Homo sapiens: one gene and its partners. The protein of the gene in region 1 interacts with the protein of each later gene in a pairwise test. Each region holds a gene or a part of one and is shown in the gene's direction. Other genes may lie near its edges. The genes, in order: EPN2, MID1, THOP1 and DAZAP2.

Region 1 (7,024 bases):
AGTGATTCTCCTGCCTAACCTCCCGAGTAGCTGGGACTACAGGCGTGTGCCACCATGCCCGGCTAATTTTTGTATTTTTAGTAGAGATAGGGTTTTGCCATGCTGGCCAGGCTGATCTCGAACTCCTGACTTCAAGTGATCCACCTATCTTGGCCTCCCAAAGTGCTGGGATTACAGGTGTGAGCCACCATGGCCGGCCTTGGATTCGGGGAAGTTGAGGCTGGAAAAGATGTGAGGAATTACGTAGTTTGTATCCCTTTTTTGTCTGCTGGACTTTTAACTCATGTATTCGGTGTAAACAGACCTCTTCTGTCAATACTTTGCCGTCTAGCTCGTCCGATGTTTGGCCCCTTTTTCTCTGCTATCCTACCTTCACCAACCCACACAGTCTGCTGGTGCACTTACGACATTGTCCGTGTATCTGGGGCTCTTGTGACACTGTGACGTCTTTGAGGCCAGTGGTCAGCTTGTCTTTACTTCTCCAGTACCAGGCTCGGTCTCTGATAGATGGTAGATGCTCAGTAAAGGTTTGTCACCAGTATTCCTCGAGGCAGGGGAGCACATTTTTATGGCTCCCTACTGTTCTGTCGCACTGTTGCTGAAATCACTACTGTTGGTTCAGCAATTGTGTGTCAGTTGCATAGGTTTATCCACCTCATCTGCAGGTGAGGAAACTGAGGCCTAGGGAGCTTAAGTTACATGCTCGAGGTCGCGCAGCCAGTAAGTGATTTGAACAGATCTGTTGGACTCCAAAATGTTATTATACCTGTTACCTACTTCGAGGACCAAGTCTCATGGGGATGAAGAGACACACTGCAAGTTAACAGTGGACTGAGGGAGGTGGGGTGATATGATTAAGGTGGTTGAGGATGGGAAGAGCACATTTGTTTTTTGTCAGATGCATTGTGAAATGAATGTTTATGTCCATCTGTTGAGTTTTTGAAAATTGACAAACTTGCCGGGCATGGTGGCTCACGCCTGTAATTCCAGCACTTTGGGAGGCCAAAGCGGCCGGATCACCCTGAGGTCAAGGGATCGAGACCATTCTGGCCAACATGGTGAAACCCCATCTCTACTAAAAATACAAAAATTAGCTGGGCGTGGTGGTGCACACCTGTAGTCCCAGCTACTCGGGAGGCTGAGGCAGGAGAATCACTTGAACCTGGGAGGCAGAGGTTGCAGTGAGCCGAGATCGCACCACTGTGCTCCAGCTTGGCGACAGAGCAAGACTCTGTCTCAAAAAAAAAAAAAAAAAAAAAATTGACAAACTTTCTGATAAGTTCGTCAATGGAATTTTATTGCTTAACTAGTTCATTCAAGTTAACTAAAAATAGAAACTTAGAAAAACAAATACAGTGAAATAAGTATATGTTGAAAGCCGTTTCAGCAGCCTTTTTTTAAACCACTGTAATTTCCATCAACATTTAACATAGGGATTATCACCCATTTGTGAGTAGAAAAACTGAGGCCCAGAGAGGTTAAGTAAGCTGTGAGGAACTGGCACAGCCAGGATTCAAAGTGAATCTGTGTAATTCCCAGGCCTGGGTCCCTTCTGCTCCACTGGCCCCTGTAGAAGGCCCCACAAAATAATAGGTATTCATTTAAATAATAGAATAAATTTGTTGTCTGAAAGTCACCACCAAGTTTATTTAGAAGGTTGGGAATTGTGAATAACGAGATTTCTGGCTCTTTCCTAACCTTAGAACCTTTGAAAACACTGTGGTTTGAATGTCAATAATTAATGGATCATTTTAGCTGAGAGACACTAGATTTGGTGTTTGATCTGAAAAAAAAAAAAAAAAAGCCTAGGCCAGCCACGGTGGCTCATGCCTGTAATCCCAGCATTTTGGGAGGCTGAGGTGGGCGGATCACTTGAGGCCTAGAGTTTTTGAGACGAGTCTGGCCAGTATGGCAAAACCCTGTCTTGACCAAAAAAATACAAAAATTAGCCGGGCATAGTGGCATACACCTGTAGTCCCAGCTACTCAGGAGGCTGAGGCAGGAAAATCACTTGAACCTGGGAAGGGGAGGTTGCAGTGAGTCTCCAGCCTGGGTGACAGAGCAAGACTCTTGTCTCAAAAAACAAAAACAAAAAACCTGTCTTCTTTTGAACCAGATCCGCAACATTGTTAAAATGCTCCCTATCCATGCATTGGATTCTTTCTGTGACTCATTCCCCTAGTACCTAGGTGCTGGAGCCTGCTTCGTTCCTGGGCATAGAAAGTCCTTTTCCTGATTCTGTTTCCTGTTGGTCCTGGTCTAGGCAGAGTGTGCTTCACTTTCAAGCCCTCTAGAGACAGGACAGGTAACTTAATTCTCTTTCTGTTCAAAGCAATACAAGGAATTGGACATGCAAAGGGCTGTAAATAAAGGGACTCCCCATCTTCTCTTCATGGTAACCCTGCTGATATATAGAACAGGGAAAAGTAGGCTCATCCTGGGGGACGGCTGATTGTTTAGGGCTAATGCATGATGTGGATTTAAAAGCATTTATAATTAATCACTTCTGAGTGCAGGCTTCATTTTTCCTCTTGGTCCCACCCCTCTTAGGTAGTTGCACGTTGCAGCAGCTCGATAGCTGAGAACACCAAGTGGTACAGTTAATTTGGCTTCAAAGGCCATGTGGCAGATAGCTTTGGAATGAGGTGTGGGTACTAATGGGCCTCCTGGCTGGGTGGCTTTGGGCACTTTAATCACTGAGCTTTGGTGTCCTCATCTCTAAAGGGGGGCTCGTAATCACTACTTCATGAAATAGACTAGCCTTGTTTCTCAAACTCCTGTGTGCAGCAGAAGCACCCAGAGGGCTTGCTGAACACGTGGCTGGGGCTGCACCCCATTGTTTCTCATTAGGGAGGGGAGGCCTGAGAATGTGTCTTTTTTTTTTTTTTTTTGAGACAGAGTCTTGTTCTGTTGCCCAGGCTGGAGTGCGGTGGCGCGATCTTGGTTCGCTGCACTCCACCTCCCAGGTTAAAGCGATTTTTCTGCCTCAGCTTCCTGAGTAGCTGGGATTACAGGTGTGTGCTACCATGCCTGGCTAATTTTTTTTTTTTTTTTTTTTTTTTTTTTGAGACGGAGTCTCGCTGTCTCCCAGCCTGGAGTGCAGCGGCGCGATCTCAGCTCACTGCAAGCTCCGCCTCCCGGGTTCACGCCATTCTCCTGCCTCAGCCTCCCGAGTAGCTGGGACTACAGGCACCCGCCACCACACCCGGCTAATTTTTTTGTATTTTTAATAGAGATGGGGTTTCACCGTGTTAGCCAGGATGGTCTCGATCTCCTGACCTTGTGATCCGCCTGCCTCGGCCTCCCAAACTGCTGGGATTACAGGCATGAGCCACTGCGCCCGGCCATGCCCGGCTAATTTTTTGTATTTTTAGTAGAGATGGGGTTTTACCACGTTGGCCAGACTGGTCTCAAACTCCTGACCTCAAGTGATCCGCTTGTCTTGGCCTCCCAAAGTGCTGGGATTACAGGTATGAGCCACTGTGCCTGGCAGAGAATGTGTATTTTTAGCCAGCTTCCAAGTGCTGCTGATGCTGCCAGTCTAGGGACCAAATTTGGGAACCTTGGCCCAGAGGACTTTATGGGAAGGTGTGTAAGATGTCTAGCACCTGCTGGCTGTGCAGTAGGAACTCAAAAATGACACTGAAATGTTTCTGAATATTGGTCTGAAGATGATGGATGGCGTGACATTTGGAAAGGAAATGGGGAGAGAAGATGTCATTGTCCTTCAAAAAGGCTGTAAATCTTGGATGCTGTTGAAAAAGCAGGTTCATCATTCTCACACATCATGTAAGAAGTTTACTGTCTAGGCCTTTTAGAATTGTAACTTGGGGGCTGGGTGCAGTGGCTCATGCTTGTAATCCCAGCACTGGGAGGCTGAGGCTGGTGGATCACTTGAGGCCAGGAGTTGGAGACCAGCATGGCCAACATGGCGAAACCCCATTTCTACTAAAAATACAAAAATGAGCCAGGTGTGGTGGCGTGGGCCTGTAGTCCCAACTACTCGAGAGGCTGAGGCACGAGAATTGCTTGAACCTGGGAGGCGGAGGTTGCAGTGAGCCGAGATTGTGCCACTACACTCCAGACTGTGTGAGGGAGTGTGACTCTTCTCAAAAAAAAAAAAAAAAGAAAGAATTGTAACTTGAAAAGGTTGAGGGAGTAATGTTGTTGGGTCCTGGATTCCCACGGGGCCACTTGGCATGGACCACTGGTGTTAATGGAAGTTGCTTCTCCTCCCTGCAGCAATTCAGATTTAATATTCTTTCATGTTTACAGTTCGAATTTTTTTTCTTCAGTGGTAATTATCAACTTGTCCATCAAAACCGAATGTGCAGGGAGGTGTGTGTGAGCCCCGATGGTTTTTGAATATTTCCTGTGTGCGAGGCCTTATATTACTAATTTTATGCACTGTGTTTAATTTTCATGGTGGTCCTGCAAGCCCTATCACCATTTCTCATTTTGCATTTTAAAAAACTAAGAGGGGTTCAGTAACCTGCCCCAGGCCATACAGTTAGTATGAACTCCTGCTGGTATGCCCCAGCTGGTATTTGCTGCCACCTGTGTCAAACTCAGAACTGCTTTATTTCCACGACCTCATTTGCAGCTGTGCCAGGTGCGCCCATTACCTCACTGTACCCTCACAACAACCCCAAGAGGTAGGCTGAGCAAGCTGAGGCTCGGAAGAGGCAAGCTTGGTCATGGGCACCTGGCCAGTGGCTGGCTGGACCTGAATTCAGTCCCACACCTGTCTGATTTTGGAGCTTTATGAAGTTGTTTCTATGATAACAGCTTACCTCTCTGTCAGGTGGCCCTAAGCTGCCTGGATGTGTACAGCAGGGACCTAGGGCTACCCTAGATGGCTTGACCCCAAGGAAGTCTGTGTGGGCTAGTAAGGGTTTTTGTGTTTGCAGAGCTGTGTTAAAATAATTGGCCAAATTTTTCCTTGAGCGAAGGGGACATTTCTTTTTACTTTGTGATCCTGCAGCTCTGCACACTGGTGTGGGTACTAAGGACTGAAAACCCTCTACTAATGCTACTTTGTTAAAAGGGGGTCAAATATGGAATTTGGTAGTCTTTTTTTTTTTTTTTTGAGTTGGAGTCTCTGTTGCCAGGCTGGAGTGCAGTGGCGGGATCTCAGCTCACTGCAGCGGCGGGATCTCAGCTCACTGCAGCCTCTGCCTCCCAGGTTCAAGCAATCCTCCTGCCTCAGCCTCCCGAGTAGCTGGGACTATAGGCATGTGCCACCACACCCAGCTAATTTTTATATTTTTAGTAGAGATGGGGTTTTGCCATGTTAGCCAGGATGGTCTTGATCTCTTTTTTTTTTTTTTTTAAAGATGGAGTTTTGCTCTTGTCGCCTAAGCTGGAGTGCAATGGCGCGATCTCGGCTCACTGCAACCTCCATCTCCTGGGCTCAAGTGATTCTCCTGTCTCAGCCTCCTGAGTAGCTGGGACTACAGGCACGTACCACCACGCCTGGGTAATTTTTTTGTATTTTTAGTAGAGACCAGGTTTTACCATGTTGGCCAGGCTGGTCTCGAACTCCTGACCTCAGGTGATCTGCCCGCCTCGGCCTCTCAAAGTGCTGGGATTACAGGCGTGAGCCACCATGCCCGGCCCTTCTTCATCTCTTGACCTTGTGATCCTCCTACCTCGGGCTCCCCAAGTGCTGGGATTACAGGCGTGAGCTATCGCACCCAGCTGGAATTTGGTAGTCTTAAAAAGTTACATGTGGCTGGGCGTGGTGGCTCATACCTGTAATCCCAGCACTTTGGGAAGCCGAGGCAGGTGAATCATGAGGTCAAGAGATCAAGACCATCCTGGCCAAATGGTGAAACCCCATCTCTACTAAAAATACAAAAATTAGCTGGGCGTGGTGGCGCATGCCTGTAGTCCCAGCTACTTGGAAGGCTGAGGCAGGAGGATCGCTTGAACTGGGAGACAGAGGTCGCAGTGAGCTGAGATCATGCCACTGCACTCCAGCCTGGCGACAGAGCGAGACTGTCTCAAAATAATAAGAATAATAATAATTCCATGTGAAGTATGTCCTTCCCCAGTAGGCAATTAACACCTGGGTTCTAGCCAATGGGTAATTTTCTCTCTGGTCTTAAAATGTCCTGGGGAGGCTGGGGTGTGAGCATTTTCCCAAGGTTTGAGCACTCTTTGCAGCTCCCCAACCAAGGAATGGTAAACAGCTATGTGTTGGTGCTTGCCCTGCACTTGTGGGAGGCCCTGGAGGCTTGGACTTGAGTTTGTTTTGTGAACTCTTTAAGACTCTGAGGTGAATAAATCAATGTGAGCAAAAAGTTGTATTAAAAGGCCCCTTCCGCCCCCCCCAAAAAAATATCCTAGCAATAAAGGGACGCAGTTGTTTTGTTTTGTTTTTTTTTTCCCCCCTGAAAGCAAGTCCTCCCTGTGTGCCTTTTTTTTTTTTTTTTTTTGAAGCGGAGTCTCGCTCTGTCACCCAGGCTGGAGTGCAGTGGCGCGATCTCAGCTCACTGCAGGCTCCGCCCCCGGGTTCACGCCATTCTCCTGTCTCAGCCTCCCAAGTAGCTGGGACTACAGGCGCCCGCCACCACGCCTGGCTGATTTCTTTTTGTATTTATGGTAGAGAGGGGGTTTCACCGTGTTAGCCAGGATGGTCTTGATCTCCTGACCTCGTGATCTGCCCACCTCAGCTTCCCAAAGTACTGGGATTACAGGCGTGAGCCACTGCGCCCAGCCCCCTGTGTGCCTTTTTGATACTCAGAGCTGTCCTGGGATATAATGACTATACTATGGATGACAAAATTTGGGAAACATCTGATTGGAGAAAGAATTTGTATGTCACTTTATGAGAAGCAGCTGGGAGATGTAGAAGTATGGGCATTTCAAGGACAGTTTCATGACTGAGGCCAGTGTCAACCTGAAAAATATGGAACACGTGATCTAGAGGCAAATAATGGTTATAAATGAAATGCCACCAAGAACTTAATCTAATTGAGAAGACAAAGTTACTATTTGTGAGACAGAAGCTAGCAGTTTG
Region 2 (7,024 bases), on another chromosome or scaffold:
TGGCCTGTTGCTGGCAACAGTGACAAGCCCGTGGTGGGAGTTTTTTGGCCAAAAGGGTCCCTCAGCAGTTTTGTAAGCCTCCTTAAATTGCTTTCTCAACTGTAATCATTATCATTGTCATAACATAACTTATCACATGAATATGATGACCACTGAAATCCTTGTTCTAATTAACTAAATCATTGCTCTAAATATTAGTCATTGGTACTCAAACTTACTGCAGCCACTGAAAAAGCCCCCAGATATTTTTCTCCACTTCGTTCTGCCTACCCACGTCCCACTGCTGGATTAAACAATAGAATTATTCAGAAACATAATGAACACATGCCAAAAATATTGCCTCTATCACAATCATCTTTGTGAAAGTCAATGTTTTTTCTCAGGAATATATTTTGGAAAATGACATCCCACACTTAAACACGATCATCTCTGCTGAAATCCCCACATTTGATTTCATGTACATTTCATGCCCATTTCTATAGTTACTGCCTTCCTATTGTTCTGAAACCTGGTTTGGTATTGCAGAGTAAAAGTCCTTAAATCTCGTATACATTAATACGTAAGTTTATAAATTCAAATTTATAAAAGACTCTAGTTTATTGATGAATATTTCTACATTTTAATTTTCTGTGCGAGGTTAAACCTGACTCTGACACAATAAGATTATTCTGATTAAATACAAATTATGGAAATTACAGTTTCAATTACATTCTAGTTTTGAATGAAGCCTTTTAAAAAACAAAATTGAAAAAAAAAATTGCACATTTTCAGTTACTGAACTTTGAGAAAATGTTAACTGGTATATGATGGCTCAGGATGCTTTTTCCTCCTTTTTTCCCCAGTGAATAGAAAGAGAATTATTTGGAATGTACACACACTTACCCTTTCATGACCTGTGTTTGGAATTATTCTGAGATGCATTCAAAGCTGACACCCCCCTATGGTTGACCTCCCTGTGCCTAATCAAATCTTACATTCTTGTTTCCAGATAGCTGATCAGCTTCCTTGGGTTTTGCTGATGACACAAGAGAGCTTTGCCTGAAGATGGAAACACTGGAGTCAGAACTGACCTGCCCTATTTGTCTGGAGCTCTTTGAGGACCCTCTTCTACTGCCCTGCGCACACAGCCTCTGCTTCAACTGCGCCCACCGCATCCTAGTATCACACTGTGCCACCAACGAGTCTGTGGAGTCCATCACCGCCTTCCAGTGCCCCACCTGCCGGCATGTCATCACCCTCAGCCAGCGAGGTCTAGACGGGCTCAAGCGCAACGTCACCCTACAGAACATCATCGACAGGTTCCAGAAAGCATCAGTGAGCGGGCCCAACTCTCCCAGCGAGACCCGTCGGGAGCGGGCCTTTGACGCCAACACCATGACCTCCGCCGAGAAGGTCCTCTGCCAGTTTTGTGACCAGGATCCTGCCCAGGACGCTGTGAAGACCTGTGTCACTTGTGAAGTATCCTACTGTGACGAGTGCCTGAAAGCCACTCACCCGAATAAGAAGCCCTTTACAGGCCATCGTCTGATTGAGCCAATTCCGGACTCTCACATCCGGGGGCTGATGTGCTTGGAGCATGAGGATGAGAAGGTGAATATGTACTGTGTGACCGATGACCAGTTAATCTGTGCCTTGTGTAAACTGGTTGGGCGGCACCGCGATCATCAGGTGGCAGCTTTGAGTGAGCGCTATGACAAATTGAAGGTTAGTCCGATCCGCCTTAAGCCAACCCCTTTCTGCCAGAAAATGTCATGGAAATAAAAAGTGTATTCACTGCTAGCTACATGGCAGGTGAAGGTTTTCTCCTCACCTTTGTTATCTGATTAGTTTTAGCATGTTTTTGGCAACCTATAAATGTTACACAATAAGGGTATCTTGTAAAAGTTGACTGCTGCTTGTAATTTTAGCGTTGTCAAGGTGAGGGCAAATTCTAAAAATCTGGATCATTTTCAATCCATGCAGTTTTTCTGGATCATTTTCAATCCTTACAGTTCTTCCAAAGAGAGTGCTGCCTCTCTCTGAGAGAGAGGGAGAGAGAGAGAGAGAGAGAGAGAGAGAGGGAGAGAGAGGGAGAGAGAGGGAGAGAGAGAGAGAATGACAGATAAAATCTGGCTTTGGGCATTTGGGGAACACTTACTTTTCTCACTCATCTGGGAAAACTAATTCACTCTCATTGTACCTGTATCTAGTTACTGCACAAACAAAAGAATAGAGGGAAGAATGTCTGTAGCAAATGTGGGATTTTAGAGGACACGTGACCTTTTATTCCTTGTATAAACGATATCCAGCTTATTGGTGAAATTCAGTGCTCTGACAATCTCAGGTTTCACGAAAGAATTCCTTTTCGTGTAGGCTCTTTATTCAGTAAGGTTACAGTCAAGACTATTTGAACTTCATTTTTTACATGAAATTATTAACCTAACTCCAGCTTGGGGGATAATGATTAATATGACTATATGTGAAATAAAAGGATCACTTTCTAGGCAGGGCGTGGTGGCTCATGCCTGTAATCCCAGCACTTTGGGAGGCCGAGGAGAGTGAATCACTTGAGGTCAGCAGTTCAAAACCATCCTGGCCAACATGGTGGAACCCCATCTCTACTAAAAATAAAAAAATTAGCCGGGTGTGGTGGTGGGTGCCTGTAATCCCAGCTACTCGGGAGGCTGAGGCAGGAGAATCACTTGACCCTGGGGGGTGGATGTTGCAGTGACCCAAGATCGCGCCACTGCGCTCCAGCCTGGGTGAAAGAGCGAGACTCTCTCTCAAAAAAAAAAAAAAAAAAAATCACTCTCTAAGTATGGATAGAAAGCACTAGGGAAGAAATAATAAGCCAAGTCTCCACATGTTTGTTCAATTTCAGGCAACAGTGGGTCTAATTATTGAAAACTCAGCTGAGAGAGTTTGAGTGAGATACTATGTTCATCAGCTAATTTTAGATCACAAGACACCAATTAAAAGAAAGGAAGTATAAATTAAAAGCTCTAAGTAAATATATATTGAAGTCCTTCCTCTCAGGAAAAACACATACCATGTTGTTGAGCAAACAAAATGAATCACATGATCAAAAGAGTGTTATCACTTAGAAAACAGTGTCACCTTTAACAAATGGTTTCTATCACCTCTCCTTAGCGCTAATGGGTGGTTGTGTTTACTGGGACCACATAGTTTATTCTGTGACAGTGGGATTAACGGACCACATCTGGGATTTGGCTTTGCTATTTCTTGACATGTTGAGGGAAGCCGACATGCTGAAGTCAATTCCTGCTTCTCAATGTCACTTGGGCAACAAAAGCATCACCTGGGCAGCATGTTTCACTTCAAGTATCCAAAGAATTACTGGTGCAAATCCATCTTTAAACCATGTAGAGGAAGTCAAGCACAAGGACTCAGGTGACACAGACAACAGAAGACAGCCGCTGACAGGCTTTCCAGAACAGTGCATGGCAGCACAGGAGAAAAGTACCACCAAAGTTAATCATAGCAAAGGCAATGCATGTATGAGCTGTGCCTCTAGAGCAAATTCTGAAGAAATTGCGAAGGCTATTAATTTTTACAAACCAAGGTAATCTTTTTTTTTTTTTTTTTTTTTACCCCTTTTTTGGTTGGTGGTGGAGCTGAAGGGAGAATATTTAGGATAACTGAACAGAGATGTTTGATTTTTGTTTTCCAAAATGTAAACATGCCAGATCTTTGTTTCTTTATTAAAAATGTTCCTTTGATTGGATTTGCACTACCTTTTAATGATTGTTTGTTAAAACACCACAATCATAATGATGTTCAATATTTAACAACTCCCAGGCTTGATATTTATTTAAATCTTGTGGTCAGGTTCTGCTCAAGTACTCATGGCCTGTCACAGCAGAGTTATTAAATATTTACATAACATCTCCAAATTTATGAAGAATTCCTGTCATGCTCTAGCCCTCTTTGTGATAAAAACAAAACTCTTCAGTTACGAGCCCTGCACACTTTAATTGAGCCAGTGGCCTATCGGTTGTTCTACTGTCACATGGAGGGCCTGACAATTAATGATGTGGTTTCTTTTTATTTCCTAGTTACAGAAATATAAGCATATAAACAGCATCCAATGCACCGAAACACATTTACAGCCGTTCAATAAGATGTACTTATGAGCATTTGAACAAATAACTTATCGACATAGCATGTTTGTTTTAAAACATGCCACTTACGTTAGAATTTTAAAAATAATAATTATGACATTTGGATGTCTGATATTTCAGTTATCGCATACTTATGAACATATGTACATCCTTGTTTTATTTAAAACCTAAGCACAATATAAATGTTGATTTTTTTGAAGGAAGTAATAGCATACCAAGAGGACCAAAACCAAGGAAGTATATTTCTGTTAATTACTACTTTGGTCTGAAATGTGCTCTGAACATGCATTTTTCTGTAGCTCTAGGATCTCATATAGATGTGGATTTGTGATGATGTGAGAACACAGATAAAGCATGGAGGAATTTGAGGATGCTTTCATTGATAAGACAATAGATTTGCTTTATTAATTTGCATATGTAAGGACCCTGGTGTCTTTGGAAACATTTTTGTCCTTCTGTTAGTAAAAGTTTATTACCTGAAGAAGGGAATTCTGCAATTATTATGAAGAATAATTTCTTGCAATAATACTAAACTTTGGGGGACATATTTTACTCATTAGATCTCAGTATAAGAGATGTTTGTTTATACAAAAAATCAGAATATCATTTTGTACATTACAATCTTTTTCTAAGTGTAAAAGAAAAAGAGATAAAAATTCTAACATGTTGAACTCGTACAAATAAAATCATCCACATCATGTAAAATAGCATCATGTCAGTAATCTAACGCTTTCGGAGACTATGCATTGAGAGGCACTCATGAAATATTGAAGCAAAGAGAAAATTAAGGTAGCATTTCCTGAACTCTACTAAGATAAAAAGAGAAAAGTTTTCCTGCCAAGTGCAAAGGTCTCTAAGTGGAGCGTATCCATAATGTGGATATTTCTTTACATCGTTTTAATTGAATTTTAAGAAGCCTCTCAGTCCTTCAAACTTGGAGGAAAAATTTGATTTGTGAACCACATAACATATAAGAGAATTTAATATAATTAATGCATTCCAGAGTTTTCAAGGAATTAAAATGCAGTAGTCCTCTTTTTCTGTTCCAACATACAAGGTTGGAGCTCTTGTTTCTTTTCTCTAATTATACCTATAAAAATATACAAATTGAAAAAAACTGACCTTTCCTTGCCTTTCAGTTTCAGCATAGCCCCTTCAAATTAGCTGAAGCTGAAGTTCCAAACTATTGTTTTGCTATTCTTATTCTAAAGGCTGGCTGAGGAAGTTTGTTTGTATAATGCATGTTTCAACGGATCATCCCATTGTAATTTTTTAATAGTTTGATTTAAAAGTTCAAATTAAAGCTCAGCATTTCTATGTAGCACTTTTTATCTGGAAGTGAAGACATGAGATTTCATTCTTGGGTTTAATTTATAGATTGTAAGGTTCTATGTTTGAAAAATCTTTCCCAGTTTGCAACTAGGAAAGTTGTAAGTGTATACTGAGCTAGACTTCTTTTTATTATAATTTCTATAACTTGTTTCTTCTTTGAAAACCAGTAGCAGGCATAGTGCAGGTTCTAGTGCTATGGTGTGTGATGCACACACATACTTGCATATACATATACATACATGCATTTATTTATTTATTTAATATTATAATCTTCCTGAATCTAAGTTGGAGACAAATTCAAGTGACCAGTATTTTCATTAGGGATATTTCATTCTGCAGGCAAGAGATGACAACAAACATAGCAATAATAACTATATTCCCATCACTCAAAATATTTTACCTGTTCCTTGAATGTTTGGTAGATGGATACAAGTCAACTTTGGACTTGGTATATTTTTTGTGGGAAGAGTCTTATCTTGAAGGGGTTTTTTTTTGAAGTTACAAATATGTGTATTTTTTAAAATGTGTCTTTCTGTTTATTGGTTTCTAGTTTAAATCCCTTAAGATCAGGGCTCAAGACAATTGCATATGGTCTCACTTATGGATGCAGTATGCTTTAAGAAATATTAGAATAAGTTTATTGTATCTTCAAAATTTCCATGAGCTCATTAATGTTTTCAGTCTGTGTAATCAATTAATGACTAGGAGAGGTGCACTTAGGCCTTCCACTCAGAGAGTGAAATTTTCTTTTTTTTTTTTTTTTTTTTACTTTAAGTTCTGGGACACATGTGCAGATTTATTACATAAGTATACATGTGCCATGATGGTTTGCTGCACCTATCAACCCATCATCTAGGTTTTACACCCCACATGCATTAGGTATTTGTCCTAATGCTCTCCCCCGCTCGCCCCACAACCCTGACAGGCCCCAGTGTGTGATGTTCCCCTCCCTGTGTCCATGTGTTCTCATTGTTCAACTTCCACTTATGAGAGAGATCATGCGGTGTTTGGTTTTCTGTTTCTGTGTTACTTTGCTGAGAATGATGGGTTCCAGCTTCGTCCGTGTCCTTGCAAAGGACATGAATTCATTCTTTTTCAGGCCTGCATAGTATTACATGGTGTATATGTGCCACATTTTCTTTATCCAGTCTATCATTGGTGGGCATTTGGGTTGGTTCCAAGTCTTTGCTATTGTAAATAGTACTGCAATAAACATATGTGTGCATGTGTCTTTATAGCAGAATGCTCTATAATCCTTTGGGTATCTACCCGGTAATGGGATTGCTGGATCAAATGGTATTTCTGGTTCTAGATTTTTGAGGAATTGCCACACTGTCTTCCACAATGGTTGAACTAATTTACAACCACCAACAGTGTAAAAACATTCCTATTTCTCCACAGCCTCGCCAGCATCTGTTGTTTCCTGACTTTTTAATAATCGCCATTCTAACTGGCTTGAGATGGTATCTCATTGTGGTTTTGATTTGCATTTTCCTAATGACCAGTGATGATGAGCTTTTTTTCTTCATATGTTTGTTGGCTGCATAAATGTCTTCTTTTGAGAAGTGTCT
Region 3 (7,024 bases), on another chromosome or scaffold:
TCCCGACACCAACACCTCCCGACACCAACACCTCACGACACCCACACCTCCCGACACCAACACCTCCCGACACCAACACCTTCCGACACCCCCACCTCCCGACACCGCCACCTCCCGATACCCGCATCTCCCGACACCACCATCTCTGGCATTAAGTTCCTGGTGCATTTTGGAGGGGACGCACCCAACCAGAGCAGAGACCTGTGAGTGTCCATCACTCGCACATTGTCATACACTAGTTGCCATGTCCATGGATGACTTCTGCCGCCCTCACCCTCTGGGCATCAGTCATCCTGCCGTGACTCCGAACCTTCCCTCCTTGCCTGTCTTCTTACTGATTTGTTTCTGTCCGTGTGCATGAGGCTTCTGTCTTATTCCCGGGTTATCATTCATTATCATTTATCCCAGTGCTCAAATCGTCCCACATGGACCCTCAGGAGTCCCTCCGAACAATCCCTGTGTCCTTGTAATGCACCTGCTGTCCTCTGAACCTGCTCTTACTGTGGGGCACATGGTACCGCAGGCTCGGCCTCTGAGCCCGCGCTTACTGTGGGGCGCGCGGTACCGCAGGCTCGGCCTCTGAGCCCACTCTTACTGTTGGACATGTGATGTCGCAGGCTCGTCCCATGCTCTCCCTGCCCCAGCCCTCAGATGCTCCATTTCTTGGAGGAGACCTGGCGCCTTTGAGTGGAGGGTGACTTAGGCACCGGATGTGTTCACCACTGCCAGGGAGCAGCATTCCTGGGCACCGTTAACAGTTAGGAAGCAGACACGCATCTCTGCACCACACATGGACACACACACTCTTCTATTCTGTGTCTGTATATCAAATCCACAAGTGCAGCGGGGCATGCCGGCACACACCTGAGGTCCCAGCCACTCGGGAGGCTGAGGCAGGGGGATTGCTTGAGTCTGGGAGTTCAGGGCCACAGTGAACGTGAACTATGCATTCGTGAACTATCCATTGCAGCCTGGGCAACAGAGCAAGACCCTTTTTCTAAAAAAATAAAAACTTCCAGGAGTCCACTTTGCAGCTTCTCTTCCAGTCCAGCGCTGCTGGGCCCCCCAGCTGTCTCCCTTGCTGTCCTTTAACTCCCGTCTCCGACCGCCAGCCGTCACTCCTGGGTGACACACTGTCGAGATGGAGAGCTGCTGTTTGAAGGCCCGTGGTCCTTGGAAAGGACGATGTGCAGGTCCCGGGAGGCCTCCCCCTCATGCTGCAGTCACTCGGCAGACAATTGCCAGGCCCACGCTGGTGCTGGGGTACAAACGGGAAGGCGGGGGCTCTGCCGGCCACAGGACTCTCAGCTCCCTCATCACCACCCACACCCACGGGCTGGCCTCCCAAAATTTCCCCCATCTGCCTCTGGCCCCCCAACCGGATCATTCTTTCCACCCTTGCCTCCCTGGGGTCCCCGTGAGCTCCCGATCATTCTTTCCACCCCTACTGCCCTGGGGTCGGGGTGAGCTCCCAATCATTCTTTCCACCCTGACCGCCCTGGGGTCGGCGTGAGCTCCCGATCGTTCTTTCTACCCCTACTGCTCTGGGGTCCGTGTGAGCTCCGGATCATTCTTTCCACCCTGACTCCCCTGGGGTCGGAGTGAGCTCCCGATCATTCTTTCCACTCTGACCGCCCTGGGGTTGAGGTGAACCAGTCTTTGCATTGAAGCTGCAAGCCTGAGGCACGGTGGCCCTGGCGTCTCCCGAGCCATGAGGTAGGAACCCCAGAGGGTTTCAGTCCGGGATGCTGCCGCCCCCACTTCTCTTGAGGCTGTCGGGCAGGGGCCAGGTGGGAGGGTGTGGCTGCCGGGCAGCGGGGTGAACTGTGTCCTGCCAGGGGTTTTGTGGGTGGAGAAGGGACAGCAGGGCTCCAGTGAGAAGCTCTGGGAGTAGGAATTGGGTCTCTCTGGAGGGACACACTTGAAAGTGGTTGAGCCGTGGGGCTGCGTGCTGAGATCTCAGCTCTGAGCGGGAGGCTCTGCCTGGGGGTGGTTCTTCAGGAAAAGCAAAGCAGGACCTCCCTCTCCACGTGGGGCCTCCCTCTCCGCCCAGGGCCCAGCGTGCTCAGCTCTCCTGCTGTTTTTGTCTTTGATGGGAGGCACTGCCTCTAACGCTGGTTTCCTTGTGCAGTGGCCGGGCCACCCTTCCCGCCACCCTCCTCCCTTCACACATGAGGTTGGTGACGGCGCCCTGGAAGCCCACGATGTCCGGGGGTTGGGCTGGATTTAGCTTTAACCTCTCTGGGGCAGGAGATCCTGCTCTGAGGATGCTGGGGGGTTTCCTGGTGGGGTTAGAGGCGGGACGTGAGAAACGTGGCAGGTGGTGGCCAGGCTGTGGGGGAGCCAGGGTATTTCTTGATGGGGTTAGATGGGGGATGTAAGAATTGCAGCGGGTGGTGGCCAGGCTGCAGCTGCTCGCTGAGGGCCCCCTTGTAGCTTTCCAGGCAGAGGGGAAGCCCACCCCTTCCCTCACACGCTGTGTGCAGGCTGTGGGCCCATCAGTCCTGTCAAAGCCACCCTGGTTCTGTCCCCATAGGAGGGCTCCCCGAGGACTTTCTGAACTCCCTGGAGAAGATGGAGGACGGCAAGTTGAAGGTCACCCTCAAGTACCCCCATTACTTCCCCCTCCTGAAGAAATGCCACGTGCCTGAGACCAGGAGGAAAGTGGAGGAGGCCTTCAACTGCCGGTGCAAGGAGGTGAGAAGGCACGGCCAGGGGGCCCCAGAACAGTGGGTCTGGAGCTTGTGGGGCCCGTCTGCTCCATGTGTGTGAGGCACCTCCAGGCTTTGCACTTGGATGGCCTCCCAATCTCCCTGGCCAGGCCCAGTGGCCAGCAGAGGCCTCCCTGTGGGGCTCTGCCGTGCCCTGGAGGTGTCTGTGCTGGGCTCCACCCAGACCCTGGGGCCACAGCTCAGGGCCCAGTTCATCCTTCCCAAGCTGAGCCTCCTGCTGCTGCTCTGAGCATCTGGCCGCGCACACGTCTCGTCCCTCCCTTATCTGGAGCCGCCCCTCAGGTGTGTCAGCCCAGATCATTCCTTTTGTCTTAAATGATGGTGCCCGGACCTGAGCCTGGGTCCACAGGTGGGTTGTGACTGGGCTATCTCGCTGTGACTGGCGTCAGACGGCCGTTCCCACAGGGACACATGTAACTGTCCACGGCGCCATGGTGTGGTCGGTCAGGTGGTCTCTGCACGTCTCCCATTCGCCATCTGGAACAGGCAGAGGCTCTAGGAGTGGGCCTCTTGGTCCCCTGACGACACCAAGTTGGTGCTTGTGCGGCTGGCAAAAGGGGGATACACGCTGATCACTGCAAAGGGATGGGCGGGCACTGATCACTGCAAGGGGACGGGCGGGTGCCCATCACTGCGGGGGGACGGGCGGGTGCCCATCACTGCGGGGGGACGGGCGGGTGCCCATCACTGCGGGGGGACGGGCGGGTGCCCATCACTGCGGGGGGACGGGCGGGTGCCCATCACTGCGGGGGGATGGGCGGGTGCCCATCACTGCGGGGGGTGGGGGACGGGTGGGTACCAATGGGGGTACAGGTGGGCACCGATCACTGCAAGGCAGGGGGGTGCTCCTCGCTGTTCAGGGACCGGGAACTCAGTCTGCTCAGATGGGGCGTGGCCTGCCCTCTACATGTTGGCTATGAATTCATGTTGCTGTTAAGCCTAAGTAGGTGGACCCGTGGACTGGGCACACCTCGACTTCCCCACTGCGCCTTAGAAGGTCAACTGGGCAATCCCGTCCTGGTCCCCAGGCTTGGGTCCTAGTGGCAGAGTGAGGGCCAGGCCAAGAGGGCGCACACGGGTGGGCTGAGTTCCAGGTCCCGGGGGATGTGCCGCCTCAGAGACCTTGCTGCTGGCGGTCGGCCTGGCCCCTATTTGGCTGGCTGCTCTGCACGCACCTGCTGGTTACAGCTGGGTTTCCTGTGGACCCAGCTGGTGGGCACATCTGTCCTGAACAGGCCTCTGTTTCTCCTCGTAAACGCCTCACGTGGCTTTCATGCGTCCTCCCCCACCCCCACTGGCTTGGTTGGCAGTGCCAGTCCTCAGAAGTGAGGCTGTGTGCATGTCATTTGCTGGTGGCGATAGGCAGAGCCCGTGAGACTGGGAACCAAGGCCTGGACATGGAGGTGTCCCCACATGCAGCAGTGATGCCCTCGGAGGCTCCTCGGACAGCCCCTGGTCCCCATACCACGTTCCGTGTGAGGCCTTAGAGTCATCTGCACCCCTTCTGGTTCCAAAAAGGCCTTGGGATTATGATAACGCTGGTGGCATGACCAGAGGAGTTGTGTAGTAACACAGGCCGAGAGGGGCAGGGACCGGAGGTCAGACGGAGCTGGATATGAGCCTTTGGCCCTGGGACAGGGCGTGCTGGCCCTGGAGGTGGAGGGAGTGGCGCCCCTGGGTGACAGTGTGGTGGTGTCGGTTGCAGGAGAACTGCGCTATCCTCAAGGAGCTGGTGACGCTGCGGGCCCAGAAGTCCCGCCTGCTGGGGTTCCACACGCACGCCGACTATGTCCTGGAGATGAACATGGCCAAGACCAGCCAGACCGTGGCCACCTTCCTAGGTAGCCCTTCCTTCCTCCTCCACTGGGGTCCCTGTGGGGAAGGTTCTCAGGGTCACCCCAGGGGACAGTCGGTGCTACCCCTAGAGCCTTGTCCTTTCCCTCCATGAAGAGGGACTTCTGACGCCTGCCCTGGCTCCCTCACTCCCCCCGAGGGACCCTTACAGAACAGGGAAGCGCCCGGGCCCTGGGGTCAGTCCCATGCTTGCACCCGGCCCCGCCGCCCCCTCACCCTGAGCGTGAGGATGCTCGGCCCCTCGAGGGGTTGCCGGGAACTGCGGGTCCTCCCTTCCAAATGGGGAGCCTGACGAAGTCGCGGCCGCGGGCGGGCGAGCCCAGAGCCATGGAGGAGCCCGCGAGGCGAGAGGCCCACCTTTCTGCCCTCCCCGCAGATGAGCTGGCGCAGAAGCTGAAGCCCCTGGGGGAGCAGGAGCGTGCGGTGATTCTGGAGCTGAAGCGTGCGGAGTGCGAGCGCCGGGGCCTGCCCTTCGACGGCCGCATCCGTGCCTGGGACATGCGCTACTACATGAACCAGGTGGAGGAGACGCGCTACTGCGTGGACCAGAACCTGCTCAAGGAGTACTTCCCCGTGCAGGTGGTCACGCACGGGCTGCTGGGCATCTACCAGGAGCTCCTGGGGCTGGCCTTCCACCACGAGGAGGGCGCCAGTGCCTGGCATGAGGACGTGCGGCTCTACACCGCGAGGGACGCGGCCTCGGGGGAGGTGGTCGGCAAGTTCTACCTGGACCTGTACCCGCGGTGGGTGAGGGCAGCGGGGGCGGGGGGCGCACCCCGGCCCTGGGTCTCCTCGGAGCCCGGTGTGCCCGTCTGAGATGGGAAGGAAGTCGTTGCCTGCTCCATGGGGCCTCGGGGATGAACCCCGAGACGTAGCACCCGTGGGCACACCACAGGGGCCGAAAATGCAGCTGTCCCCGTTTCCAGTCTCACTCAGCCACCCCGACAGGGCGCAGCTCTGCCCAGGCCGGAGTCCTTTAGGGGAGGGATGGCAGCCGGGGCCTGGCCGTGGTTTTCATGCTGCCCTGCGCCAAGCCACCTCTGCTGAGAGGGAGGTTTAGAACCTCAGAGGTGCCCGGCGGTCTGGGTTAGCAGTCAGGTGGGCTGAGGGATGCGGAGTCAGGGACTCTTGCGGTGTCTCTAGTCCCTGCGGGGCCTGACGCTGCCTCCCTCCCCAGGGAAGGAAAGTACGGGCACGCGGCCTGCTTTGGCCTGCAGCCCGGCTGCCTGCGGCAGGATGGGAGCCGCCAGATCGCCATCGCGGCCATGGTGGCCAACTTCACCAAGCCCACAGCCGACGCGCCCTCGCTGCTGCAGCATGACGAGGTGGAGACCTACTTCCATGAGTTTGGCCACGTGATGCACCAGCTCTGCTCCCAGGTGGGTGCGGGCCCGGGCAGGGGCAGGGGCAGGGGCAGGGGCAGGGGCTGCCTGTGGTCAGCGAGGCCCAAGCCTGGGGCTTCGGCTTCCGGCTCTCTCTGCACCCGTCCGGTGGCTCCTTCATCCAATGCCACCCAAAGATGGTGACTCCCTGTCATGCCCGTGTCCTGGGGCTGCCCCAGCAAAACACCACAGACCAGGGCTTACACAAGGTGCGTGTATTTCCTCATGGTCCTAGAGGCTGGAGTCGGAGGTCACAGTGTCAGCAGGGTTGGCTCCCTCGAGGTCCCTCCTTGGCTTGTGGCCGCCACCACCTCCCCGCATCCTCATGTGGTCGTCCTTCTGTGTGGGTCCCCATCTCGTCTTCTTACAGGGACCCCAGTCATGCCGGATCAGGGCCCGCCCAACAACCTCACTTGACCGTAGTGACCTCCTTAGACATCCTGTCTCTAAGTAGTCACATCCTGGCCAGGCGTGGTGGTCCACGCCTGTAATCCCAGCACTTTGGGAGGCCGAGGTGGGTAGATCACCTGAGGTCAGGAGCTCAAGACCAGCCTGGCCAACATGGTGCCATCTTGTTGCAAGCATCTGTCCTAGCACACAGTCAGCAATCGCTCCTCAGAAAGGCTCTGTCCTATGAAGTCACTGAGAACCCTGAGAAGTGCATGCAGACCTGTCCCTCCAAGGGGACCCTGGTCACGTGTTCGCCAACTGATCATTCCAGAACCTTACTGTGTGTGTTTTGGGTTCAAGACACCTTACTGCTGTACAGCGCTGACGGGTTCACGTTGAACACATGGCTGGTGGCTCTGTCACCCACACCTGAGCACAGCTTGCACACACAGGGTGTCCCCATGAGGCACATCATGGCCTCCTGGTGCTGAAGGAGACGAGACAGTGCTCTGCACAACGCTTGGGGCCTTTTAAACACAAAATCACCAAGAGCAGAAAGATGCAAACACCGTGCCCCCACTAGACTGAGAAAAGGACGCTTGCTCATAAAATGAGCCGAAGTGAGAAGACAGAGTGCGGCCCTTCTGAGGACCGTCTGCTCAGGGG
Region 4 (7,685 bases), on another chromosome or scaffold:
AACTAGCCAGGCATGGTGGTGCACACCTGTAATCCCAGCTACTTGGGAGGCTCAGGCACAAGAATTACTTGAACCTGGGAGGCAGAGGTTGCAGTGAACCGAGATCACGCCACTGCATTCCAGCCTGCGTGACAAGAGTGCAACTCTGTCTCAAAATAAAATAAAAAATAAAATAAATAAAATGTATCACACTAAGTATATGGTTTTGAATCTTTCCCTTTTTTATTTAAAGAACACCTTGGAGTACTTTCTCATTCTCTGTTGCAGCCACATAGTATTTTATTGTATGGATGTATCAAGATTTATTTTTTCTGTTTCCTATTGATAGAAATATGGGTTATTTCTAATCTTTTGCTGTTACAGAAAAGCTGCAATGAATAGCCTTATACATACGTTTCTCGTGAGTGCAAATATATCTGTAGAATCACTCCCATTAGTGGGAATGGTATGTTTGCAAGTTTGATGGATATTGCCAAATTAACCTTATAGGATTTGTACCAATTTTCACCCCCATCACCAACAAATTAGAATGCCTGCTTATCCACAGCCCTGCAAATAATGTTAGCAAATGTTTGGATTTTCGCCAATCTGATAATGATATCGGTGGGGTTTAATCTGCCTTCTGATTACGACCCAGGCTGAACATCATTTCATGTGTTAGGGAGTCATTTGTTTTTCCTTTTCTGTGAACTGTCTGTCTGTAAATGTCATTTGCCATTTTTTTCTAATGGTTGATCATATTCTTACTGATGTCTAAGAGTTCTTTACATGCAGGAAGATTAGCTCTTTGTGATGTAAATTACAAATATATTTTTCCAATTTGTCATTTGACTATATGGAGTTTTGACTTTGTAGAAATTTTGTCCTGACATTAGTCCTGGAACTAGTCCAGTTGTTTCTGCTTCCTGGATATTTCTGGAATCCCCCCATTTCTCTCTACTGTACTGCCTCTTCCCTAGGCCAGTCTGCCATCATCACACCTAAATGACTAAATTTGATTCTAAATGGTATCTCAGACATACGTCCACTCTTGCCCTTTCTTTAACCTATTCTATATTCTTTAGCAACCAGAGGGATTTTTCCTTTTCTTTTCTTTATTTTTTTGAGATAGCCTCTATCACCGAGGCTGGCAGAGTACAGTGGTGTGACCACGACTCACTGCAGCCTCGACCTCCCGGGCTCAAGCAGTCCTCCTATCTCAACCCCTCGAGTAGCTGGGATCACAGGTGCGTGCCTCTATGCCTGGATACTTTTTTAGAAATTTCTTGCCGAGATGGGGTTTCACCACGTTGCACAGGCTGGTCTTGAACTCTTGGGCTCAAAGAATCCTCCTGCCTTGGACTCCCAAATTGTTGGGAATGCAGGCATGAGCCACTGTGCCTGGCCCAGAAGCATTTTTCTAAAAGAAAAACACAAGCCAGGAGCAGTGGATCACGCCTGTAATCCCAAGTTTGGGAGGCCGAGGCAGGAGGATTGCTTGAGGCCAGGAGTTCTAGACTACTCTAGGCAACAAAGTGAGACTCTGTCTCTATAAAAAATTTAAAATTAGCCAGGCATGGTGGCAAGCACCCACTGTCCCAGCTACTCGGGAGGCTGAGGTGAGAGGATGAACTGAGACCAGGAGTTCAACGTTGCCGTGAGCTGTGACTGCACCACTGCACTCCAGCTTGGGTGACAGAGCAAGACCCTGTCCCAATCAATCAATCAATCAAACAAAAACAAGATCATATCACTTTCCTGCTTAACATTCTTCAGTGGCTAACTAGTGCCCTTAACATAGAATCCAGTATCTTCATGTGGGATCTTACATGGGCTCTAAGGCGTCCCTGCAAGGTCTGGCTCACAGTTCTTCAGCGTCAATTTTTTTTTTTTTTTTTTTGAGACAGAATCTTGCTCTGTCACCCAGGCTGGAGTGCAATGGCACGATCGCGGCTCACTGCAACCTCCGCCTCCCAGGTTCATGCAATTCTCCTGCCTCAGCCTCCCAAGTAGCTGGGATTACAGGCACGCACCACCATGCCCAGCTAATTTTTGTGTTTTTAGTAGAGACGAGGTTTCCCCATGTTGGCCAGGCTGGTCTCGAACTCCTGACCTCAAGTCATTTGCCCGCCTTGGCCTCCCAAAGTGCTGGGATTACAGGCATGAGCCACCGCACCCGGATCTTCAGGGTCATCTTTTATCAGTCCCCTTACCAGTATGCTCTGGCTACACTGAACTCTTTCATGCCCTCCCCCTCTATAAGCCTTCTCACCTCTAGGCCTTTGCATAAGCAGTTCCCTCTTCCAGGAACCCTCTTCACTTGCTTAACCTGCTCTCACCCTTCAGATTTCATCTCAGACATCACTTGCATCAGGAAACCTTCCCTGACTACATCAGAATAGAGTAGGTGCCTCACCTATGTGTTCTCCTCACACTCCATGCTGTCTTTATGTCAGCACTAATCATATTATGTGTTCACTTTTCTGTCTCTCCCATTAGGTAGACCATAAATTCCATGAGAGTATGGACTATGCCTGTCTCTTCATTATTATTTCCCTAGTGCCTGTCACAGGGCCTGGCACATAATAGGTGCTCAAAAAATATTTGTTAAATTAATGTAAGAAAGAATGTTTGATAAATGACCAAATAAACATCTTCATCTCATTGGGGAATCTACGAGAATGAAGAAAATGCCAAAGTTTGATCCTGTTCAAGAAAGTAGCTAATTACTACTACTTTTTTTTGTAGAGATGAAGTCTCACTATGCTGCCTAGGCTGGTTCTGAACTCCTGGCTCAAGCGATCCTCCTGCCTAGGCTGCCCAAAGTGTTGGGATTACAGGTGTGAGCTGTTGCACCCAGCCACCATTTACTTCTTAATTCCACCTGCCAGAGAAAGCACTGGCCTGCAACTCTTTCATTTTTGTTAGTAATCTCATTTGGCTCTGCCCTGGTTTTCCCAATGCCCAGGTCCCACTGTGACAAGCAAAATACCCAACAACCTGTAAAGTAGGCCTGACCAATCTGAGGGCAGTTTACATGAGCAGGAGGTAGGCCCAGGAGAGTTCCTGGGTCCTAAGAGTTAACCCTTTAATCATTGGACAATGGAGGTGGCAAGATCGCTTGAGGCTGGAAATTCAAGACCAGCCTGGCCAACACAGGGAGACCCCATCTCTGTATTAAAAAATGAATAGCACGTGCCTGTAATCCCAGCTAGTCGGGAGGCTGAGGCAGGAGAATCGCTTAGAACCCTGGAGGCGGAGGTTGCAGTGAGCTGAGATTGCGCCACTGCACTCCAGCCTGGCGACAGACCAAGCCTCTGTCTCAAAAATAAATAAATAAATAAATAAATAAATAAATAAATAAATAAATAAATAAAAATAAGGCTCGGCGCAGTGGCTTATGCCTGTAATCCCAGAACCTTGGGAGGCCGAGGCAGGTGGATCACCTGAGGTCAGGAGTTCGAGACCAGCCTGGCCAACATGGTGAAACCCCGTCTCTACTAAAAAATACAAAATTTGCCGGTCGTGGTGGCGGGCACCTGTAATCCCAGCTATTCGGGAGGCTGAGGCAGGAGAATTGCTTGAACCCAGGAGGCGGAGGTTGCAGTGAACCGAGATCATGCCACTGCACTCCAGCCTGGGCGACAGAGCAAGACTCCATCTCAAAAAAAAAAAAAAAAAAAAAAAGAAAAGAAAAAATTAAAACTTTTTTTAGAAAGAAAGAAAACCAGCCTGGCCAACATAGTGAAACCCCGTCTCTACTAAAAATACAAAAATTAGCCAGGAATGGTGGCGCACGCCTGTAGGCCCAGCTACTCAGGAAGCTGAGGCAGGAGAATTGCCTGAACCCGGGAGGTGGAGGCTGTGGTGAGATCGCCCCACTGCACTCTAGCCTGGGCAAGCGAGCAAGACTCCGTCTCAAAAAAAAAAGAAAAAGAAAAGAAAACACTTAATCGCTGCCCTAAAGGATGCCATCTTTGCCCTTAAGGATAATTAGGTTAGAAAGAGAAGCCATACATAGAGAAAAATAGAGGTACCATACAGGTCACCTGCAACAGGTGCTAAAAAAAGGAAAGGGCCACAAACACTCCATGGGTAGTGCAGTTATGTCAGTTTCAGTGCCAGGTGTTGCGTACAGCACGGAAAACATAACCCCTTCCTGTACGTGAGAAAGGCAACGACTGTCCTGGGGAAGACAGGGCAGCGAAGATTCCAGTGCAGGTCTCATTCAGGAAAGGATACATGTGAGCTGGAGTGGCAAAATAAATTTTAACAGAGCTGAAGCTTAAGTTGGGCTTGGTGGGGAGGGACGCATGATAAACTAAGGTGTGGGGAGCCGATTTCAGGCAGTGCGACAAATTTGCAGAAATCTAAGCCCCTCGTGGAAGGTTGCCAAGGTGAGGTGACCTTGAGTGAATGCGTGTAGGTGGAAAAAGGTTCCGGGGAATGCTTGCATCGTTCTGCATCCGAGCGTCCAACAGAGAAAAGATCCTGTTTCCAGACAATACCTGCATTTGGTTTTTCTCCAGCTGAGGGACACCGGTAGGGGGGGGGAGGACAGAAACGAGCAGGGGGTGGGGCCAAGGCGAGTGGGCGGGACCGCGCGGACCCTCCCGCGGCCGACTGGAGGCCCGGAGCAGGGGCGGAGTTTCCGGCGGCAGCGCCACTCGGGCGTCGGGTGACGCTAGGCGGACGGACCATCATGTGACACGGAAGTAGCTCCGAACAGGAAGAGGACGAAAAAAATAACCGTCCGCGACGCCGAGACAAACCGGACCCGCAACCACCATGAACAGCAAAGGCAAGGACCGAGGGTGGCAGAGGCCGTCGGGGGGAGTACTGCTGGCCCAGAGCGAGCGGATTCGGAGCCCAGGGTCACCAAACGCCAGGTTTGGGGTGGGCTGCGCCATGCTCCTTGGCCGGCTGCAGTCCAGGGCGCTGCGCCTGACGCCTTCGTCATACCCAAATTACGGCAGCTTGCTGCCTCCAGGCCCTTTCCTCCGTAAACTCTGTGGCGCAGTTTGGAGCTGCGGGCTCGGGTGGTGGGGGGGCTTGACATGATGGGCATCCGCAGGAGCAAATAGAGCGCTAGCGCAGGCATTCGCGTAGGCCAATGGAGAGCCGGCGGAGGCGGGGCGCCGCGCTCCGGAACCCCCAGCGGGGCCGAACTTAACTACTGAATTGCTGGAGTTGGTTCGTGGGCCGGGGCCTGTGAGGTCTCTTTTCCTTCCCTTCGCACCCCCTCGCCCTTCGCTGACGGGATCAGAACTTCTCCCCTTTTCTGTGGTTGTACCAGTGTGTCTGTCGGAACATGATTCCCATAACGCAGGAATAGGTTGAGGGGGTAAAAAAGGAATAGAAAAAAAAAAAAAAAAAAGGCCGAGCGAGGTTGCTCACGCCTGTAATCCCAGCAGTTTGGGAGGTCGAGGCGGGCGGATCACCTGAGGTCAAGAGTTCGAGACCAGCCTGGCCAACGTGGTGAAACCCCGTCTCTATTAAAAAATACAAAAATCAGCTGGGCGTGGTGGCGGGCGCCTGTAATCCCAGCTACTCGGGAGGCTGGGGTAGGAGAATTGCTTGAACCCAGGAGACGGAGGTTGCAGTGAGCCGAGATCGCGCCACTGCACTCCAGCCTGGGCAAAAGAGCGAGACTCCGTCTCAGAACAAACAAAAAACCAAACCTGATCCCCCGCTTTTCCAGTGAGGATATTCCTCCTCACCCCTCAGCCCTGCACCCTTTTCCCAGTCTCACGGTTCACTTCCATCATTCACACCCTTTGTTTGGAAGTCGACCTTGAATAGTAATCTGTAAGGAAAATCAGAACTGCTGTTACCCACGAAGTCTGGGCTGGTTGTAGACAGGCTGTGGAGACTACCTAGAGCAGAGGCACCCTTGATAAGCCAGAACAGCAGCAGGCCAGAACCCCAGACCTGTCCTGCATTCCGGAGGGAACTTGGGCCCAGGTAGACTTAACCCCTTACTTCGGTATGTTAGTAGGAGCAGTGAGCAGTGCCTTTCTTGTCTCGTTAGAATCCAGCACCTTCCATTTTAAGGGTGCAAAGACAATGCATATTTTCTTAGTTCCAGGAATCAGGCCCTCTGGGGCAGACTATTTGCAAATCCCCTTCTGCTTGCTCCCACTAAGTTAGCTACCCGATATGACCTGCCTCATTTTGGTAGCTCTGTGTAGTAGGCAACCTTCATTTTTTTCTTGTCTTTCAGGTCAATATCCAACACAGCCAACCTACCCTGTGCAGCCTCCTGGGAATCCAGTATACCCTCAGACCTTGCATCTTCCTCAGGCTCCACCCTATACCGATGCTCCACCTGCCTACTCAGAGGTGCTTCCAGTTTGCCAGATTTGAACTAGCTGGGAATACTCTTAGGGTGGTCCTTTAGTCCTTAGCTAAATCTGACTTCACATATTTACTCTTCACAAATGCTAACATGAATAATCTAAAACACTATATAATTTGGCAATTTTTGTCGGAGTTGAAAGTGCATTATTTGATGATTTTGTGTTATTTGGCACAGGCTAAGGTGCAGAAGATGAATTTGCGTTCTGTGAGCCCAACATTAGCTATAGCAGAAAGTGATCCAGGAGAATATTGAAGGCCAGTGGAAAGGCAACTTGTATAATCTTACAAAAAGTATAACCTGCATAAGGAGAATTAAGAATTAGCTCATTAAAGAGATCTCAAATAGGAATGTCATAAAGTAACATTTTGCCTTCTCTTCTGCCTCTTCTAGCTCTATCGTCCGAGCTTTGTGCACCCAGGGGCTGCCACAGTCCCCACCATGTCAGCCGCATTTCCTGGAGCCTCTCTGTATCTTCCCATGGCCCAGTCTGTGGCTGTTGGGCCTTTAGGTTCCACAATCCCCATGGCTTATTATCCAGTCGGTCCCATCTATCCACCTGGCTCCACAGTGCTGGTGGAAGGAGGGTATGATGCAGGTGCCAGATTTGGAGCTGGGGCTACTGCTGGCAACATTCCTGTGAGTATGACCTCATCAGAAGAAACTCAGCCCTTGTGTATTTTAACTTTCTGAAATGACTTCATATTCATTCTCTTACCATTTCTGGATGATAGTTGCCAGTGTTGGTACAACTACTGACATCCAATACTCAGGCAGAAAGTGTTTGAGGGGGCAGAACTGTGGCAAGTGAGTAGCATCTCACTGGGGGCTGAGTTAACCAGATTCTTTTGTTTTCATGTCTGTCGAGTCCTGCTTGCTGCTTTTCCAGTTCATTGTGGTACACTGAACTGGTCTAGTAATGCTCCTTATTCATTCCATAAGCATTTACCATTTACTTAATATTTGCCATCAGCATGGTGTTGCACTAGGAACCCTGATAATTAAAAAAGTAGAATGTATAATCCCTAGTAAGTAGCTTTTAGAAAGATATTAACAATTTTAGTTATCATTTTTTCCTACTTAATTCCCCAGTGCGTGGGATTTAGAGCTCAAATGACTGCTCAGTAACTACATGCTAGAGATGAAGTGAATGTGTCATTAGCGAGCCTTCAGTTTTCCAGTAGTTCATTCAAAAACTGTGTAAGGGCGAAGCACGGTGGCTCACCTGAGGTCAGGAGTTTGAGACCAGGCTGGCCAACATGGTGAAACCCCGACTCTACTATAAATACAAAAATTAGCCGGGCATGGTGGCAGGCGTCTGTAATCCCAGCTACTTGGGAGGCTAAGA

Evidence for each region.
Region 2: the proteins of EPN2 (region 1) and MID1 interact in binary tests that used the Homo sapiens proteins (3 or more experiments, as listed by UniProt).
Region 3: the proteins of EPN2 (region 1) and THOP1 interact in binary tests that used the Homo sapiens proteins (3 or more experiments, as listed by UniProt).
Region 4: the proteins of EPN2 (region 1) and DAZAP2 interact in binary tests that used the Homo sapiens proteins (3 or more experiments, as listed by UniProt).

Annotation. Positions count from the first base shown.
Region 1 is NC_000017.11:19,240,347-19,247,370, forward strand, and holds part of EPN2 (epsin-2), read left to right. Parts: intron 1-7,024. UniProt on the Homo sapiens protein: Plays a role in the formation of clathrin-coated invaginations and endocytosis.
Region 2 is NC_000023.11:10,561,568-10,568,591, reverse strand, and holds part of MID1 (E3 ubiquitin-protein ligase Midline-1), read left to right. Parts: intron 1-988; 5' UTR 989-1,044; coding exon 1,045-1,704; intron 1,705-7,024. UniProt on the Homo sapiens protein: Has E3 ubiquitin ligase activity towards IGBP1, promoting its monoubiquitination, which results in deprotection of the catalytic subunit of protein phosphatase PP2A, and its subsequent degradation by polyubiquitination.
Region 3 is NC_000019.10:2,802,480-2,809,503, forward strand, and holds part of THOP1 (thimet oligopeptidase), read left to right. Parts: exon of another isoform or gene 1-1,716; intron 1,717-2,131; exon of another isoform or gene 2,132-2,176; intron 2,177-2,536; coding exon 2,537-2,697; intron 2,698-4,437; coding exon 4,438-4,573; intron 4,574-4,962; coding exon 4,963-5,329; intron 5,330-5,763; coding exon 5,764-5,965; intron 5,966-7,024. UniProt on the Homo sapiens protein: Involved in the metabolism of neuropeptides under 20 amino acid residues long. Involved in cytoplasmic peptide degradation. Able to degrade the amyloid-beta precursor protein and generate amyloidogenic fragments.
Region 4 is NC_000012.12:51,234,141-51,241,825, forward strand, and holds the start of DAZAP2 (DAZ-associated protein 2), read left to right. Parts: upstream 1-4,685; 5' UTR 4,686-4,767; coding exon 4,768-4,780; intron 4,781-6,202; coding exon 6,203-6,321; intron 6,322-6,730; coding exon 6,731-6,976; intron 6,977-7,685. UniProt on the Homo sapiens protein: In unstressed cells, promotes SIAH1-mediated polyubiquitination and degradation of the serine/threonine-protein kinase HIPK2, probably by acting as a loading factor that potentiates complex formation between HIPK2 and ubiquitin ligase SIAH1.